2 separate regions of the Homo sapiens genome follow, and region 2 is linked to region 1. Evidence: fine-mapped QTL for protein levels in blood plasma. A gene starts in region 1. The other region holds a variant in brackets. All regions are shown on one strand. Distances are between the middles of the regions.

Region 1 (8,366 bases):
AGCCGAGATTGCGCCATTGCTCTCCTGCCTGGGCGACAGCGCAAGACTCCGTCTCAAAAAAAAAAAAAGGCGGGCGGTGGCTCACACCTGTAATCCTAGCACTTTGGGAGGCCAAGGTGGGCGGATTGCCTGAGCTCAGGAGTTCGCGACCAGCCTGAGCAACATGGTAAAACCCCGTCTCTACTAAAATACAAAAAAAAAAAAAAAATTAGCCAGGCGTGGCAGTGTGTGCCTGTAGTCCCAGCTACTCAGGAGGCTGAGGCAGAAGAATTGCTTGAATCCGAGAGGCAGGGGTTGCAGTGAGCGGAGATCGTGCCACTGCACTCCAGCCTGGACAACAGAGTGAGACCCCGTCTCAAAAAATAAAAGAAACCAGAGCTCTCTGGAGAATGGTTGATTTCAGTTTGGGGCTAGGGAAGTATAAGATATTCTGTCAGAAATTAAGGAAGTACTCAAATAATAATAGAGACACATCAAAGAGATGCAGTCTAGAGTGAAAGGACTCCCACTAGCTAAAACTAGGATGATTTGAGCATCTAAATTAATAATGATGTTAACAGATTATAATCCACAGAATAAAGTAGGAATTCATGGGTCCAATGCTGATAAGAAATGAATGCAATGAAATTTTGATGAGATGTGGGATATTTACATAGTTTCAAAGTACCTCTCCATAAAACACTTATTAATTACAAAGGGGAAAAGAGTAACTTTATAGAGGAGAAGCTTTACAGACACCATCTTAAGTGATTAAAGTTAACAACATCAATACTGGTATAAAATGAAATCTTGTGCCAATTGATGCAATGCACTGAGAACACAGCAATACTTCTGTGATATTCCTGCCAAAGGTATATATCCTTAATTTATTCAAGAAGAAACATCAAGCAAACCCCAGTTAAGGGACATTCAACAAGATAGACCATAGTCTTCAAGTGTCAAGGTCATGAAAATCAAGGAAAGACTAAGGAAAAATTCCAGATTGAAGGAAACTAAAGAGAAATCACAACTAAATGCAGTATGTGATTCTGGCCTACAACTTTTTACTATAAATTACATTATCGGGACAAATGGCAAAACTTGAATGAGATCTAAGGATTAGATGATAATGAATCAATGTTAATTTCCTGGTTTTGATGGTTAGATTGTGGTTACATTACAGAATGTTCTTGTTTGAGGGAAGTATAAAAGTATTAGGGGTTGATGAAATATGTCAACTCCTTACTGTCAAATGATTCAAGAGAGAAATTATTTGTACTATCCTTGCAACCTTTCCCTGAGTTTAGGGCTGTTTCAAAATATATTTTTTTTTATTAAAACAAGTTCAAGTCAAATTATTTATTTATTTATTTATGTTTTTTTTTTGGAGACAGAGTCTTGCTCTGTCGCCCAGATTGGAGTACAATGGCACCATCTCGGCTCACTGCAAACTCCCCCTCCCTGTCAAGCAATTCTCCTGTCTCAGCCTCCCAGGTAGCTAGGATTACAGTTGTGTGCCACCATGCCTGGCTAATTTTTGTATTTGTATTTATTTATTTATTTTGAGAGAGGGTCTCGCTCTGTTGCCCAGGTTGGAGTGCAGTGGCGAGATCTCAGTTCACTGCAACCTCCTTCTGCCTCCTGGGTTCAAGCAATTCTCCTACCTCAGCCTCCCGAGTAGCTGGGATTACAGGTGTGTGCCACCATGCCCAACTAATTTTTGTATTATTAGTAGAGATGGGGTTTCACTATGTTGGCCAGGCTGGTCTCAAACTCCTGGCCTCAAGCAGTCCGCCCCTCTCGGCCTCCCAAAGTGCTGGGATTACAGGCATGAGCCACAGCACCCAGCCAAAAAAAAAAATATGTTTAATGAGAAAAAAAGTCAACTCAGCTATCAACTACCTAGGACAGCCTCAGGGCAAGCAACTGGGAGTAACAGGTCCAGCTCTGCCTGAACATAGTGTAGGCACACTGCCCAAGCTGTGTATAGTAGGACGAATAAAGCATAACGGTTAAGAGGGTGGTTCTTTTTTTGAGACAGAGTCTTGCTCTGTCGCCAAGGCTGGAGAACAGTGGTGTGATCTTGGCTCGCTGCAACCTCCACCTCCCGGGTTCAAGCGATTCTCCTGCCTCAGTCTCTCAAGTAGCTGGGATTACAGGCATGGGCCATCACACCCAGCTAAGTTTTGTATTTTTGGTAGAGACAGGGATTCTCCATGTTGGCCAGGCTGGTGTTGAACTCCTCACATCAAGTGATCCGCCCGGCTAATTTTTGTATTTTTAGGTAGAGACGGGGTTTCACCATTTTGGCCATGCTGGTCTGGAACTCCTGACCTCAGGTGATCCGCCCAGATGGGCCAGGCGCGGTGGCTCACCCCTGTAGTCCCAGGTACTTGGGAGGCTGAGGCAGGAGAATTGCTTGAACCCGGTGGGTGGAGGTTGCAGTGAGCCGAGATCGCGCCACTGCACTCCAGCCTGGGTGTGACAGAGTGAGACTCCATCTCAAAAAAAAAAAGCATAGGCTGGGTGTGGTAGCTCACGCCTATAATCCCAGCACTTTGGGAGGCCGAGGTGAGTGGATCACCTGAGCTTAGGCATTCAAGACCAGCCCGGGCAACATGGCAAAAACCCATCTTTACTAAAAATAAAAAAATAAAAAAAATAGATGGGCATGGTAGCACTTGCCTGAAGTCCCAGCTACTCAGGAGGCTGCAGTGGGAGGATCGCTTGAGCCCAGGAGGTGGAGGCTGCAGTGAGCTGAGATCACACCACTGCACTTGAGCCTGGGTGACACAGTAAGACCCTGTCTGAAAAAAAAAAAAAAAAAAAAGATACTATACTTTGCCAAGAATAAAGTGTTATAAATGTGCTCTGTGCACACTAAGCACAACAGCTGTGATGAAGACCAAGTAGAGACAAACTGAAGGTTCATCAGCCTATGCCCAAAATTTTCCATCTCTGTACCACTTAGGTTTTAGCAATTGGAGAATTCTTGCTATACTTCCTTGAAATATAAGCACCCAAATATTTTCATAGAACATTCCTAGTCACTGTAGTATGGGAGTAGTAAGAAAAGGAAGTTTGAAATAGAAAAAAAAGCAGCAAACAATAGCATGAAGTAGAAACTTGACCTGTCCCTTAATGGTTTCTGCAATGACGTTTTTGGCAGAAGCTTCCAATTCTCCGTTGAACTGGTCACCCAACATCCGAAGGCGACCAGCAATGATAGCCACATCAAAAGAACAAGGCTCTCCTATGACAGAGGGAACACATTTGTTACAATGCTTGAAGCAATGGCAAGTCCCAGGAATCTGGGCAATGAGAAAAATTTGTCTTGTCTTTTAAATAATTTTCATATCATGATCTCCCAAGAGCTTAAATGTTCTGTCAACACCAATAGTCAGAAAGTTTCCCTTCATTGAGAACCTCTTTCGCTTTAGGTGTTACTGAAAGCTTAGAGTTTGCCTTTTGAAACTTAAAGGAAATAAATAAAATATACTGTTTTTTTTTTTTTGAGACCGAGTCTCTGTCGCCCAGACTGGAGTGCAGTGGCGTGATCTCAGCTCACTGCAACCTCCGCCTCCCAGGTTCAAGCAATTCTCATGCCTCAGTCTCCCATGTAGCTGGGACTGCAGGCATGAGCCACCACACCTGGCTAATTTTTCTACTTTTAGTAGAGATGGGGTTTCACCACGTTGGCCAGGCGGATCTCAAACCCCTGACTTCAGGTGATCCACCCACCTTGGCCTCCCAAAGTGCTGGGATTACGGGAATCAGTCACTGCGCCCGGCTGAAAACATACTCTTATTGACCTGCAATCACCGCCTAGGGCAGGAACCTTACCTGAATCTACTTCATCTACACAGCATAGGTTCCGGCTGGCAACCTGCAATGTTGGGCTCAAGAAGTCCATGAGTAGAGTGTTCACAATGCATTCCGTTTGTTCCTCAAAAGTTTGGGAGCTCTTCATTTTAGATGTTTGCTGTCAAGTTTTGCTTTTCCACGAAACAAGCAGTTTTCAGCCCAGCAGGAAGTTAAAAACACTGGTAAATCAACAAATGTTTCTACCTCTTGTAGTTTCCTGACATGTAATCCTGGAACTTTTCCCACTAGCTTTCTTCAAACACAGCTGCTCAGAAAGGTGGGACTTCTCAGAAGGATTACCTACTTGGAACTGGGGAGACTTTAAAGACTTTAGGTTCTCTATCTCAGACCACACCCTAACCACATAAAATTAATGCTTAACTTTTATCGTTAGGTAGCCAACCTAGAACTGAAATAGAGTTCAGGAAGAGCCTCTGGAGTAATTTTATTAAGAAATACTTCCTCGACTTCTTAGGTCCTGCACATGGTATAATTTGAAGGAAGGTTTTGAAGTTACAGTGGACCAGCGTTCAACTTCTGTTTATGGAATTTATTTGCCATAATCATATAATAATTACTTACTGAACAAGGAACTATAGTTGGCACTACAAGTAACATAGAAAAATGATACAGGCACAGTTACTGTGCTCATGAAGCTTACACTTCAGCAGAAATGACAGATATTAAATGAGTAATCGCATTGTTATTTGTGCTATTGAGATCAGTGCACTTTGATCAGTGAAGTGTAACAGGGAATCAAGCCTTTGATCAGTTTAATAGGGAAACAAACCTAGGGGACTGGGAAGGCTTCCTTAAAATAGTACCATCTGACATGAGCTCTGAGGAATAAGTAGGCATTCATTATGCAAAAAGGAGGCATAACACTATTCTAGGCGGAGAGGTAGCAGATATAAAGTCTGGGAAGGTTAAAAAAAAACAACTTGGAATTATAAATGGGGACAACAGAAAATATTTCATAGATAAATTATGAGGATTAAATAAGATAACATGCGGAATGGCCTAGCACTGTTTGGCATACAATAAATGTTAAATGTCCTCCTTTTAGCCCAAGACATAATGACCAGGAGGAAAGAGATCTGAGATTCTCTGTCTAGCAAAAGGATTTTCCTAACAGGGTTGGACTCCATCATTGTTTTAAGAGATCTCATGATTGGACACTTATCTGTAGTGGTTGCCTTCTTAACGTAGCTAAACCTAGATTTTGGGTCTGGGTCTCAGAAGCAGCCATCAAACCTATCAGCAAACTTACCACTCAACCTGTCTGACCTGGTGAAGTTATTAATATTAACAGCTCCAACTAATAAAAGAGTCAAGCATAGGCCGGGCATGGTGGCTCATACCTGTAATCCCAGCACTTTTGGGAGGCTGAGGCGGGCAGATAACCGGAGGTCAGGAGTTCACGACCAGCCTGGCCAACATGGCAAAACCCATCTCTACTAAAAAATACAAAAATGAACTGGGCGTGGTGGTGCATGCCTGTAATCCCAGCTACTAAGGAGGCTGAGGCATGAGAATCGCTTGAACCTGGGAGGCGGAGGTTGCGATGAGTCGATATTACGCCACTGCACTCCAGCCTGGGTGACAGAGCAAGACTCTGTCTCCAAAAAAAAAAAAAACAAAAAAAGATTCAAGCATAAACAGTAAGTCAGTTGTTCAGAATGGAATTTCTATCTTGCAAAATATCAAAGCCAATCTTGTGTTTTCTGTTCCATTCTAAAACACATACAACCACTGCACACCTATTAAAATGGCCAAAATCCAGAACACTGGCAAAACCAAATGCTGGTGAGGATGTGGGTCAGGAACTGTCATTCATTGCTGGTAGGAATGCAAAATGGTACAGCCACTTTGGAAGAGTTTAGCAGTTTCTCACAAAACTAAACATCCTCTTACCATATGATTTAGCAATTATACTCCTTGGTATCTACCCAAAGGAGCTGAAAACTTATCTACACAAAAACTTGCACATGGTTGTTTATAGCAGCTTTATTCATAACTGCCCAAACTTGGAAGCAACCAATATGTCCTTCAGTAGGTAAATGAATAAATAAACTGTGATACATACAGACAATAGACATTATTTAGTGCTAAAAAGAAATGAGCTGGCTGGGCGCGGTGGCTCACGCCTGTAATTCCAGCTACTCAGGAGGCTGAGGCAGGAGAATTGCTTGAACCTGGGAGGCGGAGTTTGCAGTGAGCTGAGAGGGCACCATGGCACTCCAACCTGGGTGACAGAGCAAGACTGTGTCTCAAAAAAAAAGATCAGGCCATGAAAAGATGAGGAGGAATTTGGGTGGTAATTGGACTTTGGGTAATAATTGATGAGGTAAGTTCATCAGTTACAACAAATTGTACCACTTTGATTGAGGATGTTGATAACAGAGAAGACTATGCTTGTGTTGGGGCAGAGGGTATATGGGAAATCTCTGTACCTTTGTTTCAATTTTGCTTTGAACCTAAAACTGCTCTTAAAAAGTCTTAATTTTTAAAAATGATCATAAATTGCTTTTGGAGTAAGAACACAAATTATGTTCCCATGTAGCTAAAGTGCTATTTTCATTTGTCATTATCTGTCGCTCATTCTCTCTAGAGGCAAAAGGGCTGAAACCTCATTATTACTAAGTAGGCTTCAGACTTTTAACATCAGAAGGGCGGGCACTCAGAGAAAATTCTAGGCTAACCTCCTTTCACATTAGAGCTAGCCACTGACAGTTGAAGGATTCTAAAAAATACATTTGTGACATACTCCCAAAACAATATATAAAAAATAAAAATATTTATGAGACCATCCAGCTGGTATTAAATAGCTTGCCCAAGTTCACACATCAGTAAGTGGCAGAATATAAATTTTAAACCAAGTCTGTCTTACATTAAACTCAAGCTTTTCCCACAGTAATAAACCACGTTCCTCATTTCACTATCAATACGCTTATGCCATCTTTGAAATCGAATTTTGAGTCCAGGGGTGGTAGCACGCACCTATAGTCCCAGCTACTCAGGAGGCTGAAGCAGGAGGATCACTTGAGCCCAGATCAAGGCTTCACTGAGCCATGATCACACCACTGCACTCCAGCCTGGATGACAAAATGAGACTCTGTCTCAAAAAAAAAAAAAAAAAAAAAAATCTAATTTCAACTCCTTTGCATTGTCTTGTATAATCAATGTTGTAAAGCTATAGAAACAGAGTACAGGCTGTCATTAGCAATGTGGAGTAAATTTTTTCCAAGTTTGTTTACTTCTTCTGGGCCTTCAATATAGCACCCTCCAAAACTATCCCTTTCCCTCAGCCCACATACCTTCACCCTTGCAGTTGTAATATTGTGCTCTTAATTATTACTGAAAAATCACGAGGCCAGAATTTTTTCACCGTCACTTGTTTCTCTTGCCACCCTCTGACCACAACAAATTACATCCCTCCCCAAAATGCTTTGTCTCATATCATTGGCTTAAAGTCCAGGATCTTGTCATCTGTACCAGATGTGCATGTGGATGAAGATCCTTGAGTGTAACTCCTCTCAACATGGAGACTTGTAACTAAGAAAACAAGTAATGTGTCCCCTCTCCCCTAAACATCCCATATCTAAGAAAGGAATAGAATACTTTTAACAGAACGCCTGTTCAAAAATAGGGGTAATGGAAACACATCACAGTCACTGATTCATAACTATAAAATGATGGTAATATGCAAATTATTGCCTCTGCAGTGTTCCAAAACACTATTGTCTTTGTGGAACCTCATTACATACGTAACATACTGTTTACCTGTCAACTAAGAATGACATTAGATGGCTGCTGTTCTAAGAGCACAGTATAGACTACCTTCATGGATTGTAAAATATAAACATCTACTTATATCACATCATCAAACCCCATGTCTGCAGAAGCTATACAGAGTTCCTAGCAGGGGAAATATTAAAGAATTAACTTCATAGTATACCTGAGCTTTAGTCATTTTGCTTATAAATTAGTAAAACCAGGCTACAGGAGAAATCAGTTCTTCATTGAGATAATCTTAAAAGTATATTTTCCAAAAGCAACAATTTCATATTCTATGTATTCCTCTTACATTATAGAAAAGCAACCAAGTAGAACATAGTCTTCTAAAAGCTCCAATAGTTGGGATCACTTTAGTATTATTATTTATTCAGTTGCTTAGTCATACCTAATTTTCTTTAGATCAACATTTCAGTTATAGTCTTTAATTTTAAAAAGTCAATAAGTTTACTCAATTTCTACCACCTGCATCCTGTTCCCTTGCTACGCCTTTTTTTTTTTTTTTTTTTTTTGAGATGGAGTCTCACTCCGCCACCTGGGCTGGAGTGCAGTGGCACAATCTCGGCTCACTGCAGCCTCCGCCTCCCAAGTTCAAGCGATTCTCCTGCCTCAGCCTCTCGAGTAGCTGGGATTACAGGTACCCGCCACTACACCCAGCTAATTCTTTGTATTTTTAGTGGAGACGGGGTTTCACCATGTTGGCCGGCTGGTCTCAAACTCCTCAACTT
Region 2 (4,412 bases), 15 kb after region 1:
TCTTCCTCACTGCGGGGTTGGTAGCGTAGCAGAAAGTTCAATACTTCAGCCTGGCCCCATTGGTCCAGTTTTGACATTCTATCCAAAAAACAAAACAAAAGAGCTATTTTAGCAACAAAATTAGGACCATTTCCATGCCACTGCCATATGACCAGGTGGTTGTTCATCATAGCAAAGGGAGAATTCTTAAAAATAGGCTGTGCCATAATTAAGTCACTTTTCATGTACTATTTAAAGTTTACACAAAAAAGGCTTAAAATTCCAAGATGAGTTGTTAATACAAATGCACACTCCTCTAAGACCAAAGACATGATCAGCATACACTGGGTCCAGGTTCCTTACATTTTAAGACACTATAAATGGCTTAGTTTGGGGGACATGACTAGAGAAGGGTAGAACCTATTCCCACAGTATATTTCTATTTCCCTATATCAATAAGGGAAAGTAAGGCAAATAAAAGAAATTCTCTCAGTGGAATGTGAGGGAGTTAATAGTGGTTAACTGGCCGGGCGCAGTGGCTCACGTCTGTAATCCCAGCACTTTGGGAGGCTGAGGCGGGCGGATCACCTGAGGTCAGAAGTTTGGGACCAGCCTGACCAACATGGTGAAACCCTGTCTCTACTAAAAATACAAAATTAGCCGGGCATGGTGGCGCATGCCTATAATCCCAGCTACTCGGGAGGCTGAGGCAGGAGAATTGCTTGAACCCAGGAGGCGGAGGTTGCGGTAAGCCGAGATAGCGCCATTGCACTCCAGCTTAGACAACAAGAGCAAAACTCCGTCTCAAATAATAATAATAATAATGGTTAACTTTCTTTTCTACCCCACATAAGTTGTTCAATACTTTAATACATCAACAAGATCCCACAAGGTAGCAGATCTCATAATAAAAAGAGTGCTGAGGCATCCAAACCGATTTAAGAGATGGTGAGCAATGGGCTTATTGATGACAAC[G/A]CCTCCTTCCTGTTTCAGAATTTCCTCTAGAGACCTCAAGCAGTTCACAACTACAATTGGATCCTGGTCACGCAGCAAACTGTATAATTCATTTACCAGGGCACCATCTATAAAAAAGAACAAAGTTCTTAGATAAAGAAGGAAAGCTTCAGAGTAACAAGGATGTAGCCAGAGTAATAGCTCCAGGTAGACAAAGTTGAACTTCTCTGCTACAAAAATGACAAAGGCCACACTAAAGTGCAAGGCAAAAAAAAAACTGCCATGTCCAGACTGTTCTAAGCAGCTAATACAAAGGATCTCATTGGGGCCCCAGAGAAAGGACTTCTCATCTCCAGAAGATACCAAGCCCTGCATCCTACTTAAAGAGATATGTACAGAACTGGGGCCACATTATTATTTTCTACCAAAGCCACACAATCTTTTTTAAAGTTATACATAATGGAGGCACATTGACCATGATGGATTACACTGAACTTACCTACTTCAGAGTCTCCATGAAGATTATGCATCTTGGCACATCCAAGGACTGCCACTCTCCTGACATATGAAGCCTTATCCCGCAGACCATTGAGAATAGGCTGTTGTATATACTCCTGCACACCAGGCATCCTAAGCAACACATCCTGGAGTTAGCCAGATTCTGAAATACTAATTTTGACATACCTCAGCCCCTGTTCACCTAACAGATGGTTTAGTAGATGCTGCACCCATCAGATCATGAAGAATTGCAGAAAGCCTCTATCAAGCTTAAAAAGCCATAATTTGACTTTTCTGTTTTTTTCTTGTTTTTTTCAAGATGGGGTCTCACTTTGTCACCCAGTGGCCCGATCATAGCTCACTGCTGCCTTGAATTCCCGGGCCCAAGCCATCCTCCTGCCTCAGCCTTCCTAGTAGCTGAGACTACAGGTGCGTGTCACCATGCCCATTTAATTTTTTGTAGATATAGGCTCTCACCATCTTGCCCAGCTGGTCTCAAATTCCTGGGCTCAAGCAATCTTCCTGTCTAAGCCTCCCAAAGTGCTGGGTCTACAGGCATGAGCCACTGTGCCCAGCCTAATTTGACTTTTCATTTGGAATAATGATGCACAGGCAGCAAAAAAAGATATACACATAATTGTTTAGAGATATTTAACCAAAACTGAGGACTATTTTACTTAGAGTGAGAATCAAAAACTCCCTCTAATAAAATTATATGATACAGGTTATTAAGCCAAAGCAGTGGCTGAAAATCTGAGTTCAGGGTACAATAATGTTTTCCCCAGTATTAAGGAGCTCAAATAAATTATCCTCTTTAAAAACCTACCCTGTGATCACTTGAATTCATCAGCCATTTAGGACCAGACAGAGAAGAGGGTACTCACCTGAGGCTACACATGCTCCGTAACGCCAGCCCTCGCACCATTGGATTGGGGTCTGAGCAGTCTTTGCACAGCGTATTGATGGCCAGGAGAGCCAGATCTGGTTTCAGGGGAGCATATGTGCACATGTACAGATAAACCAACTTCTTCTGGACAATATCTACAGTGGCACTGGCCTTCACCATTTCCATAAAAACACCAGACATGTCCAAGCCTTGAGTCATGTACCTGAACAACGCACATGACAGAAGGAAGTAAAATGCAAAATCCCCAACTTACAATGGAGGGAGTTTTACTTACATATCTCCTGATTACCCAACTAGATTGTGATCTCTTAGAGGGTAGCAGCCAGGATTACCTTGTCTATTATATCACACAGTACTTCATACCATAGGCCTACAATAAACATTATTCTTCTATTCATTCAACAAACACTTATTATTATTTTTGAGACAGAGTCTTGCTCTGTTACCCAGGCTAGAGTGCAGTGGCACAATCTCGGCTCATTATAAGCTCCGCTTCCCAGGTTCAAGCGATTCTCCTGCCTCAGCCTCCCGAGTAGCTGGGACTACAGGTGCGTGCCACCACGCCCAGCTAATTTTTGTATTTTTAGTAGAGACGGGGTTTCTCCATGTTGGCCAGGCTGGTCTCGAACTCCTGACTGCAGGTGATCCACCCGCCTTGGCCTCCCAAAGTGCTGGGATTACCAGCGTGAGCCACCGCACCCAGCCTCAACAAACACTTATTGAATCCCTAGTACTTTGGTGAAATTCAACTTTTACATCCAGGGACATGCTCTTGGGACATAATCTTGAAGAAGGTGTGGTCTCAAACCTCTAGGAACTTCAAATCTATTAATGAGCCAGATGAGAATACCGTTAATTACAGTATGATAGATAAGTACTTAAACAGAAGTATTGTACAAGGTGTAGAGGGGATTCAGAGGTCTGACACTGGCAGGAAGTCAGAAAATGTTTCTTCACAGAGGAAGTAATACTTTAGCTGAATGAGCAGGAGCTCACTAGGCAGATGTAATAGCAAGGTAAAGATACATGCTATGAGGTAAGTAGACATGAGCAGGAGCAGCACACATTTTTTTAAGAGTCTGTAGGTAGTTGAATTAACAGCTTGTTCCTTGGGTGCTGTGATAAGTTTGGACTTTATTGTTTCTCAGACTGGTCTCCTACTGGAACCAACTGAAATGTTTATTAAAAATACAGATTCCTGGGTTCCCTCCCACCCTACTGAAATCAGAATCAGTCCCTGGACTGGATGACAAAAAGCACCCCAAGGGATTTTTATGCATAGTAAAGTTTGTGAACCATAGCTGTAGGCAAGAGTTATGTGTTCAGGTATGTATAATGGAAAAATTCTGTCTCAAATGAGGCAAAGTGGCCTACTAGTAAGCTGCTGCAATTGCTTTATTGATGAAGGCCTGGACCAGAACAACAATGCTAATAAACAAGAGAGGATGGATATTTAGAATTATGAATTCAAACCATCTGACATAAGAAGTGAGAGATCAGGTGTCCTCAAGGTTGGCTCCCACGCATAGTCGGCTGCTGGTGGCATTCATCAACACAAATGTAAGCTGAACAGGTTTGAGGAAGACGGAAGAATGTCCGGGCTATTTCGGACATACTTTTGATAAACCACGCACGTGGAAATGCCAAGCAGGCAGTGGGATACGTGGGTCTGAAGCTAAAAAAGGAAGTCTGTACTAGCTATATTATAGATCCAAGAGTCACCAGTAATTGCTCAAGCCCGTGATATGGAGGAAACTACCCAGCTGAGTAAAAGATGCTGCAGAGGGGAGACTGACATGGTACTCCAAAGCAGCAGGACGAAGACCGAACCATATAACTGCCACGTGTGAAAGCTAATTCACCCTTTCAGAGAGACTGGGGCTAGTGAGCCCTGATGGGGATTGCAAAGGGAGCAGTTAGCACGCGAAGGGAGGTAGGTGATACCTAATCACTCGCTGGATGACATTCCGGTAGCGCAGCCTATCAGCTTGAATGTGAGGATTGCACAGAGCCTTCTTCAGCTCCTTCACCACGTCCTCGGAGCCAAGGTACGGCATCTTCCTAAGAGTCACAG

Which allele goes with the higher level. Alleles are on the strand shown, and positions count from the first base shown. The strength of an association depends on the size of the effect and on how common the allele is.
As copies of G replace A in region 2, the plasma level of the protein whose gene starts at base 4,155 in region 1 goes down (moderate association).

The links. A credible set is the group of variants that fine-mapping cannot tell apart. PIP is the chance, under the fine-mapping model, that this variant and not a neighbour inherited with it causes the effect. Protein levels are from antibody-based Olink assays in UK Biobank. Linkage for the fine-mapping came from a reference panel and not from the study's own genotypes, which makes the PIPs less certain.
Region 2: its variant is the best candidate, but not a certain one, in a credible set for the plasma level of the BCL2L15 protein (UK Biobank, PIP 0.53).

Annotation. Positions count from the first base shown.
Region 1 is chr1:113,883,427-113,891,792 of GRCh38, forward strand. It overlaps BCL2L15 (BCL2 like 15), which reads right to left and starts at 4,155. Exons shown (of 4, transcript NM_001010922.3): 1 at 3,823-4,155; 2 at 3,111-3,232. The coding sequence starts at 3,949. The region is part of intron 3 of AP4B1-AS1 (AP4B1 antisense RNA 1); the gene reads left to right.
Region 2 is chr1:113,900,323-113,904,734 of GRCh38, forward strand. AP4B1 (adaptor related protein complex 4 subunit beta 1) reads right to left here. Exons shown (of 10, transcript NM_001253852.3): 1 at 4,283-4,412; 2 at 2,316-2,540; 3 at 1,433-1,563; 4 at 914-1,061; 5 at 1-78. The coding sequence starts at 4,395. It overlaps AP4B1-AS1 (AP4B1 antisense RNA 1), which reads left to right. Exons shown (of 5, transcript NR_125965.1): 5 at 1-915. It also overlaps a transcript of DCLRE1B not described here. Among named protein-coding and RNA genes, the nearest start is that of AP4B1, 2.3 kb to the right of the region's middle. RefSeq lists enhancers at 4,113-4,172, 4,253-4,412. The variant G/A (reference allele first, on the strand shown) is at 955.